2 separate regions of the Homo sapiens genome follow, and region 2 is linked to region 1. A link means that fine-mapping ties the variant in region 1 to the expression of a gene that starts in the linked region. Tissue or cell type: whole blood. Region 1 holds a variant in brackets; the other region holds the start of a gene. All regions are shown on one strand. Distances are from middle to middle.

Region 1 (5,024 bases):
TACACACATCTACGTAGACCTAGGTAAACCGTGTGCCTTTACAGAGCACGACCGAACCAGAGCCCGCGCTCTTCCTCCTGCCACCCAGCCGTGGAGCATTTGGACCCTTTGGGCTGCTGTCTGATCTAAGACGGCAGCTCTGAGGATCAATTCCCCTGAGCAGACAGTTTTCTGAACCAGAACCCCTAATTTAAAAATTGCCTGAAGAAGCAGAAAGTAAGAACTGGAGGAACAGTAATAGTTATCACTGCTAATTTTAACACCAACAAGATCTTACATTCGGGGAAACGATCTCCCACCCCTTTTCTTATTTGAAATATAGCCTTCTTGATCATAATCTGTCATTCAAGAGGAGCTGGATGCAAGTGGATTGGCAGTAGGAGAGGAACCCCAGGGAAAGACCAAAGAGCAATGAGCAGGCTACAGTCAATTTGATTTTGTGGATTCTTCCAGGGCCAGCACTTGCGGAGGTTAGAGATGCCGGAAGGGGTCCAGGTCTTGGGTTTGTGTGTGGTTTATTTCCCTCGGGCATTTTCAATTCATATTCCTGCTCCCCTAGATATTCAGGCCCATGGGCAGCATTTTAGCAAATCTGGGCTTGTTTCAACACCAGCCCAAGCAGGCACAGACCAGAAGAGAAATCTGTTGGTGGTGGGGATGCTGGGGGCAGCGAGCCTGATCTGAAGTGGGGAGGCTCCCTCGATCCTAATATACAATATCCCAAAACAAAGTGAAAATAAAGTTTAAATTACCTTCCGGTTTCGATGATCTAAATCACACCTCCCTTCCAGAAGTGTAGATAATTGGAGTTGACTAAATTGTGAAAATATCTGATTTTTTAAATTCATTGTGTACAAGAGTGCCCCCACCCCGCCCCTTCTCTTCCCCATGCCCCTCCTATAATTAACCTACACATCAGCATATAATACCAGTACCCAATGCAGTCACGATGGCAACCGATAGCAAGAATACTTATGGCTGTGTACAATTCAGATACAACTGTTTAAATTCCATTTGGCTGAGTACTGTGGCTCACTCCGGTAATCCCAGCACTTTGGGAGGCCGAGTTGAGGGGATCGCTTGAGCCCAGGAGTTTGAGACCAGCCTAGGCAATATAATGAGACCCTGCCTCTGCCAAAAGTTTTTTAAAAACTTAGGCAGGCACAGTGGTACACACCTGGAGTCCCAGCTACTTTGGGAGGCTGAGGTGGGAGGATCCCTTGAGCCCGGGAAGTCGAGGCTGCAGTGAGCCATGATGATGCCACTGCCACTGCACTCCAGCCTGGGTGACAGACTGAGACACTGTCTCAAAAAAAGAAAAAAAAAAAAACCTCAAATTGTAATTTCTCTAAATATTTTCAAAAATAGCTGCATGGAAAAAATTAGCTCTGTGCCCACCCTTCTCTCCTGTGGCTCTGTGGGGTCCACTTCTCAAGTGACAGCTTCATAGGCTTCCCAGAGGTTCAGGTGGCAAAGAACCTTGGGTGATGTTTTGCCAGCTGGAAACCAAATCAAGTCAGGACAACTGGAGATCAGGCCACCAGCTGAGAAGTGTGGGACTGGAAAAGTCAAACCTAGCAGGCAATATTTAAATTCAAAATTGAGTATATGTGGTCACAGCCTCTCTAAGCCTCAGTTTCTCCCTGTCTTTCCTTTACTAAGAATGAATCCTACCCTCTGCTAATCCCACACATCACCCACCACAAGGATGATTTTGGTTTTTCAGTAAAACAAAAGCAGAGGGGGGATGGGAGCAGATCCTAAACGTTTCAGAATGGTGTTCACACTATTCTCTCTTAGACTCATGGTACCTCTGCACACAGCCTCTCTTTGTAAGGCTGAACAAACAGAAGCAAGCAACCAAGCAAGCAGAAAGATATTGCAGCCCCAAAAAGTAAAAAATAAAAAAGATGAGGATAATCACAAGAAATATTTTCCTATGAGATAGATTTACCAAAAGGAAAAAAGAAAGAAAATGTCTGGGAAATGTCGTTTTTCAGTAAGATTCAAGAGGACTTTTTTCTGAAAAAAATCAAAGTAAACAGCATCTCAAAAGCAGGGGTCAGCAAACTTTTCCATTAAAAGGCTAGGGAAGAAATATGCTTGGCTTTGAGGCCACATGGTCTCTGTACAACAAGGCTTCCCTAAATAGAAACAATATGTAAATGAGGGAGTGGGACTGAATCTGGCCTCTTCCTCTGATCCAGAGGGAAGGAGCTGCCCTCAGGTAAGGTTGCATGAATGGCTGAAGTTAAAACCTCACTA[T/G]AAGAAGCAGGAAGTATAATGCAAAAAAGAAAGTGACAGACGCACTTGAAAAGCTTTCTCAGAAATAAGATGACAGTGAGGAAAACAAAATAAGATCTGGACCACAAAACCAGACACCCCAGTATGTACATACAAGGAGCCCTCCAAAGAGAAAACATCACAGAGCAGACATCTTGATGAGAATGATAATAATAATAGTGATAATAAAAGCCTTTCCTGCATTGAAAACTGGAGGCTATAGATTAAAAGAACATATTTAAATCCAAGGGAAAAGAAATCAAGTCAACACACATCCATATCCTAATAAATGTTTCTGATGTGTGGAGAAAATTCTATAAACCTTCAGACAAAGTAAATGAAGAGATTACCTACAAAGGAATCAAAATCCAACGGGCCTCAGGCTCCCCTCCTGTATTCATTGCTCTAAGACAGCGGAGTCATTTCAACAACTTTGAGGGAAAGAAAAATACTCAGTCAAGTCTCCATTTACATTTAAGGTTGACATAATAACAGTCTCAGGTATCCAAGGGCTTAAATATTATTCCCTTCATGGGGGAAAAACAAAGTCTTAATGGCAAATGCCGATCTACTAGGGGACAAATCAAAATTAAGAAACCACAGGTGGAAAATTTACAATGTTGCAGATCTATGAGCAATGAAAAGCTATTAAAGTTGTCCAAATACTTAGTATAATTTCAATTATAACATAGTAGAAACGTCAAAAACAGTGTTTGAAAGGGATGAATCCATGTTGAAATTATCATAATGTAAAAATAATACAGGTCTTAAAACCTAGATCATATTAATAAAAATTGGAAGTAGGGGGAGGAGAAGGACTAAAATCATACTGTTTAATTCTTAACTTCGATGCTTTAGGGAATGTGGGTTTAAATGTGCTTTCAAAAACTTAAGGGTAACCACTATTAGGTTAAAATAGGATGAATACTTTCCAAATCACCAAAAGGGAGGAAAGCAGAGAAAGTCCAACCCACATAGCATAATTAACAAGTGATAAAAAGGAAATAGGAAGTAAATGCATCAAAAAGAAAACCAGGAAGCTTAAAGACAAAAAACAGAAAAACAAGGATTGTGCTATGAAATATTAGGCTGCCACTAAAAACCATGTTTGAAGGGTACTTAATCACACAGGGGAATGTTCACAATAAAAAGTAGAGATGAAAACATAATATGTACATATATATACTCTCAACTTTGTCTGTATTTAAGGTTCATAGAGAAAAAGGCATAGGGATATACTCAAGTATCTTCTTTTATTTAAAAAAAAATAATTATTATTATTTTGTACAGACAGGGTCTCACTATGTTGCCCAGGCTGGCCTCTAATTCCTGGCCTCAGGTGATCCTCCCACCTCAACCTCCCAAGTCTTTGGTATTCACAGGCATGAGCCACCACGCCCAGCATTAATAATTTTTTGAAGATGATAGAATTTCAGGTTATTTTTTTTCTTGTTTATTCTTGTTTTATATTTTCCACAAATAACACACATTTCTATAATTTTTTTTTTTTTTTTTTTTTTTTGTGAGGGGGACCGAGTTTTGCTCTTTCCACCCAGGCTGGAGTACAATGGTGCAATCTTGGCTCACTGCAACCTCTGCCTGTCAGGTTCAAGTGATTCTCCTGCCTCAGCCTCCCGAGTAGCTGAGATTACAGGCACACAACACCGTGCCCAGCTAACTTCTATATTTTTAGTAGAAACGGGGTTTCACCATGTTGGCCAGGTTGGTCTCTAACTTCTGACCTCAAGTGATCCACCCCCCTTCAGCCTCTCAAAGTGCTAGGATTACAGGCGTGAGCCATCGCGCCCAGCCTGTAATAATTCTTAAAAACAATCAACATTATAAAAAATAAAAATTGTAGGGTACCATGAAACCAAGCTGATTGTTCTTCCCAGGGGAGGAGGAAGGGCCAGAGAGGATTTGGAAGGTATTATCCAGCACAGGTTAGGTTTGATCAGTCAGTGGATGCTGCTGGGTTGGAAACTGGATTTTCCATCTACCAGTGCACACTCAGCCCTCAGTATTCTTAGAGCACATGAGGAAAAAAAATCACTATTAAGCTTTAATTTCCAGAGCCCTTACTGTGTGCTTTGTGCAATGTACTTTATTCTCACAACAACCCAGAGATGTAAGTATTTTTAGCCCATTTGACAGATGAGGAAATTGATGCCAGAGAGGATAAGAGACTTGCTTAAGGTTACATAGATGGGAAGGCAAGCTGCCAGGGTTAGAAACCAGCCCGTTTGTTGAATCCCTAATAATAATGTGTCCCCTTCCTTCTGGAAGTTAGGCAGAACTTGTGTGGACTTCACTGCTATTATTTTTTAATCTGCTCATTCTTCCCTCTGGCTTACGGGGACACACCATGAGGGCCACTGTCTCTTACTTTCAGCTGGACTATGAATCCACATGCCCCTGATTCTTTCACAAAGATGCTGCAAGCCACCCCTCACAAGGGCTTCCTGAGCAGACATCTTATTCCTTCCAGTCCAGCATCAGTGGATAAAACAGAACTAAATTCATCGCTATTCCACCCACCCCAACTTCCTTCCTTCATAAACTAGCCACAGAGCAGAGGCCCAGGAGCCTGTCCAATACATCTCAGGGTCCCAAGTACTTCTCCCCACACCAGCCTAGGAAACCAGGGCTGGCTGTCAGCAAAATGAATAAAATTCCTATGTTTGCCTAAAAGGCAGGGGAGGGGAGTGGAGAGCTTACCTCTGAATTGCAATGTTACTAGG
Region 2 (5,024 bases), 110 kb after region 1:
AGAAATGTCTGCAGTGTCCCAGTGGGCATCCAGGAGGAAGTCCTGGGAGGACAGATGAGAGCCCGGGGAGGCGTGATTGGGTAAGAAGGAGCAGCTTGTAGGTGACCCATGCCTAGTGCTCACAGGAGAGCTGCCTTAAGCACCGTCTACCAGGCAGCGAGGGTCTGCTGAAAAGAAGCATTCATGGCTGGGGTTTTTCTAGTGTGACTCCCTTCCCAGTGAGAAAGACCTCAGAGAACTTAAAAGGAAGGGCACAGAAGAGTGGCAGAGAGGGTGAATGACAGCGTGGCATGCTCCAGGGCTGGGCAAGAGAGCCAGGAAAACGTAATGTATACTCCGCTTTACAGAGATGTTAATTAATGCCTGCCTTGTCCTAGAAACCAAATTGGTACCTAATGCTAAGTGCAGAAAGTGCAGAGATTTTCTGAACCCAGATGTTTAGCTTATAACCAGCATAATGATACTAGCTTTGCATTAAAATGATGGATCCTGAGGCTGCGAATACATGAGAAAGGAAAGAGGGTAGGGAGGAAAGCAGAGAAAGGAGTGGAGGTCTACAGGGAAGACACAGACATTTCAGGAAGATCCTGTACCCTATCCCTTTGCCTCTTCCAGGTCCCATGAGGGACTGTTTACCTGGGAGGCACCCACTGTTGCTGGAGCTCATTATTTCTTTTGCAAACCATGTGCTGCTGTACGCGTAGGTGGGATCTGCCTGTCCACGCCCTCAAGGGGCATGTGGGGAGAAATGTTCCATTTCTTCCACAGCCCGGAAGACAGAGGTGGACCCCATTGTCACACATGGCGGGGGCGGGGAGCTGACCACATTTAGCCAGACTCTGAGAACGCATGTGTGTATATATATTGGGTGTGTGTGTGCACACGCCCACCATTCTTAAAAAGCAAATAAGGTTTCTTCCCCCTACTGGGGTCTCTCCATTGTGAGAGATTTGCTTTATTCCATCTATGCTTTTCAATCAATCAAAGGGCAGCTCACACAGCACACAGCGGGAATACAATCTCCCTCCCGGGGTGTCTGCGCTTCTCCCCAGCCTAGCCAGAGACCTTTGCAGGAGCTGAAAAAAGTTTGGAAATAGCGGAGTCAGGGTGCTGAAAAAGCCCTTTCATTCAGCCCCTATCTTCAGGATTTACAAAAACAACCCAAATTCTGAGCCTAGCACTGAGGCCTCCTTGTTCAAAAGAATGTTTGCTCCTCTTCCATCATGTTCTGTAAGGCTCCTAACATATTTTTTCCACTGGTGGGTCTGTGGGATACTCTGAACACATGATCTTGGACAGAGGGTACAAGCTTATTCAGTTTTGTGGGAAAATGATATGATCATGTTGCCTAGAAAGCTACCTCAAAGTGACAGCACCAGAAACACAGGAGCTTGTACATATATATTCAATTCCGAATTTGATTTGGATCTCATGTTCTTCTCCCTATGACAACTGAGACCCTAAATTAGTTGCTCTTAGACCCCAAGAAGGGAACTATGGAAAAGCCTCTTAGAACCCCAGCCACTTCCTACCTCCTCCAGAAAAAGTTAAAATGAGCAGCCTGTGAAATTCCAGCCAGAGAGAACAAGAATGAAAATGCTTTCGGGAAATAGGACCTTAAAGCACGGGCGTCTGGGGAGTGATTCTACAATCGGAGCAGGCTTGGGCTCTGGGGGACGCTGGCAGACCCACGAATGCCTTGCCTTCTCCGGTGGGCAGTGCCGCCACGGTCGTGAGGGAGGGGAGCCTCCTCTTTTGGAGGACTATATCCCTCGTGCTTCCCCCTTCTAGTTCTCTTTCTCAGACACACACCACGAAAGGCATGTGACAGGTGTTCGCCAGCCGGAGGCACCGGGGAAGGCAGCCCCATGTGCCCAGGGAGGGTAGGGAGGTGAGAGGGGACCCAAGTCCTGTGTCTCCAAGTCCTGTCTGCTTGCTGCTAAGCAGGCACTGAGGCTGTGAATAAGGTCTTACCTTTTAAGGAGGATCTGACCCCCGTACCTTCCCTAGACAAGCAACATACGCGGCGATGCTTTAAGCCGCTTTCTGCCTGAAATCTCGGCGCATTCCCGGGGAAGCAGTGCCACGCTTCAGAAAGGCGTTTGTGCTGCCTCTTACTGGGGAAACGCAGTGTCTGTTTCATATGCGCCGCCCTACAGAACTGCAGCCCCAACCGCCTATCTGGCCTCCTCCCCGGGCGCTGGGCCACCACTCTCTCCAAATATGCGTCCGAATATCTGTGGGTCTGTCTCCCGTTGAAATCCCAGGGTGTCCAAAGGCCACGGGGCCGCGATGACACTGGGTAGGTCTCCGGAAACCTCTCAGGACTTCTCCCATTTTAAAGCCCAGCTAGGGACGAAAGGGGCTGGGAGCTGAAAAATTGCTCCCTCAACCTCCCCGGGTGGGAGGCAGAGCCGGGAATACACAGAATCCCACCCCGAAAGTCCCGGGAAAGAGAAGTCTGAGTCCAGGAGCGTGAGAGGAGAACACACCCGGGAAATCCCTGCTCCGGCCGCTGCACCTCCGCGGGCGTCCAGGTGGGACGTGGGCAGGTGCGCGAGCGCCGTGTGTGCCGGTGTGGATCTGTGTGTGTGCCTGCGTGTGTGCGTGTGCGTGTGCCGCGGGCTGGCTCCGGGACACTGAGGACTCCCGGGTCGGCCCAGGTCTGTCCGACCTTGCTGCCCTCGCCGCCCGCCCGGCCCCACTCCCCGGCGGGCCGGCTCCTTACCTGGACGCGCCGCGTTTCCCTCCTTCAGCGGGAGCGCCGCATTGACACTGCAGATGGAGCCTATGCCGCTGCCTCTCGCCCTCCTCTGAACGTGTGCGTGTGCGCGCGTGTGGCTGCCTCCTCCAGCCCCAGCCCCGAACGCAAATACTCCACCGAGGCACAGGGAAGCCGGGAGCAGCCGAGGAACGCGGAGGGCGCCGAATCAGAGCCTGCGGGGCTTGACAGCTTCTCTTGCGGCGTCCAAGGTGGGCGTAATGTCCAACAAAAAGGTCGGAAAATGGGGATCGATTCCGAACACCCCTTTCCTCCACCCAGCCCCGGAGCCCGAGCAGCGGCGGCGGCTCTCGGGGGCTGCGGTGGCGACGCCGGGCTGCCCCCCTTCGTCCCCACCCCCGCGGGCTGAATGTCCTTGATGCCAAGCGGGCACAGCGGCGTCACTCCGCGCCGCCCATGCTCGCCCGGTCGGGCCGCTGCCCGGGCGCGGCGAGTGCGCGGGGGACCCGCCGGGGAGCGCTCTCGGCGCCTCTGCGCGCCTCTCTGGGTAGCGGCGGCCGCCCCCCGGCAGCCCGCGGCCGGCCGCGCCGCGGCAGCCCCCACCCTTGCCGAGACACTCGCCGGGCAGTGCCCTGGGGCCGGGGCTGGGGGGCCGCGGGAGCCGCCGGCTGCTCCCCGGGGAGGCGCGGGGCTGCGGCGGTGGTGGCTGCGGCGGCTGGCGCTGCGGCGGCGGAGAGCTCGGCCGCGGGCCGAGCCGGGCCTCCCGGGCGCGCCCCCGGCCCCCCGGGCGGGCTGCTCGCAAAGTTTGCAGGGGGCAGGGAGCGGGGCCGCCGCTGGCTCGGCCGCCGCCGGAGCTCCCGGGCTGCCTGCTGCCGCCGCGGCTCGCTGCTGCTGTGCATTGAAGCCCGGCCAAGCGCTGCAAAAACTCCAGCTGCCTGGCGCTCTCTGGGTCCTCCTCTCCTCCCTCCCGCCCTCCCTGCTTCCCTTCCTCCCTCCCTCGCCTCGCCTCCTCTCCTCCCTGCCGCCCGCCGCCCGCCGCCGCTCCCTCTCTGGCTCGCTCTCGCTGGCTCGGAGCTCGCGGCTGACATCTAGAGCGAGGGAGAGCGGCCGGCAGAGGGGGCAGGGGGCGCCTCCCTACATGCTCCCACCCGCCGCCGCCCGGCTTGCCGGCTCTCCTCCGCACCAACGTTTGCCGACACCCCCCTGGGTCCCCTCGGCCCGCACGGAGCTACCCTGGCGGTGGCGATGTGGGGCGGAGAGAGGGGCATACATGGGTGACCGGAGCGCACGGCGCGCGCTCAGAGGGAGGCGCTCAGCCGCCTCGGAATTTGCAGCTCTGGGCGCTGGCCGTCGGAGGGACCCTCAGGTGCTCAGAGCTGACACAAGCGCACACTGACTCTGAGGCATACACCCATTGCTAGTCAGAACCCCTCCCAACACCCCACCAAGTCACCCCCACATGGCACCCAAGGAGGCCGAGGACACTGAGGGCACAAGGCCCGCACGAGAGAACATGAGTGGCCAGTGCCCCAGAGCTGGCTTGGTAACCTGACTTTTCCATTCATGTTTATACTGAGCGGCTCTCCTGGCTCCTCTCTTCTCTGAAACCCTAGATCCTAGACTACATCCAGAACAGACCATGCCAACATCAGGGTGGTTTCTGAAGCCCAAAGAAAGAAATCACCATGTAGCTCTGGTTTAGGCAGTGAAGATGGGGAGTGGGTGGCACTACCTCCCAAACCTCTGCCTAGATCCCCCTAGGAATGGGCCCACCCACCAAGAGAAACCGAAGGGATTCCCACACCTGTTAACTCAACTCTGTGCATGCCACCCTCATCCTCATACCCGCTCCCACCATAGTCTGAGGGAAGTGGCACCTTCAGCAGAGTCCAGTAAGCATTCCCTGGGATAGGCAACCAGCAAGGACGACCCTCTAAAGGAGCCCATGGCTCTTGGCCTCCTCTCTCCTGTCCCTTCTTTAGTTTTCACTGTCCTCACACCCAGAAACTCCCGCCCATTACTGTCCCTCCCATCGAAACATCTCAGAGCCTCCTTATTAGGTGGACATGACTGATAATGGCTTAAATGCCTATACCTCCCTATAGGGGTTATATTCTCACAGAAATCGAAGTTGTGTGAATTGGGGAGCCTTTGAAAGGAGCTGTGAGATGACAGCTTAAACAAGCCCCAAGGTGAGCGGCACATATAGGTCAGGCTTGGCCCACCCAGAGAGGACCCTGCTGAAACTTTGCTCTCACCAATGAGAAGATGAACCAAGCCAGAATGAGGAGGAAACCACATG

The links. PIP is the estimated chance that this variant, and not a neighbour inherited with it, causes the effect.
Region 2: it holds the start of PLXNA4, and the variant in region 1 is fine-mapped to the expression of PLXNA4 in whole blood (TOPMed, PIP above 0.99). The same link has a PIP of 0.9 or more in CD4 T cells.

The regions. Positions count from the first base shown.
Region 1 is chr7:132,459,056-132,464,079 of GRCh38, forward strand. All of the region lies in intron 3 of PLXNA4 (plexin A4), which reads right to left. Among named protein-coding and RNA genes, the nearest start is that of PLXNA4-AS1, 110 kb to the left of the region's middle. The variant T/G (reference allele first, on the strand shown) is at 2,266.
Region 2 is chr7:132,573,694-132,578,717 of GRCh38, forward strand. It overlaps PLXNA4 (plexin A4), which reads right to left and starts at 2,777. Exons shown (of 32, transcript NM_020911.2): 1 at 2,729-2,777. RefSeq lists enhancers at 1,261-2,238, 2,239-3,216.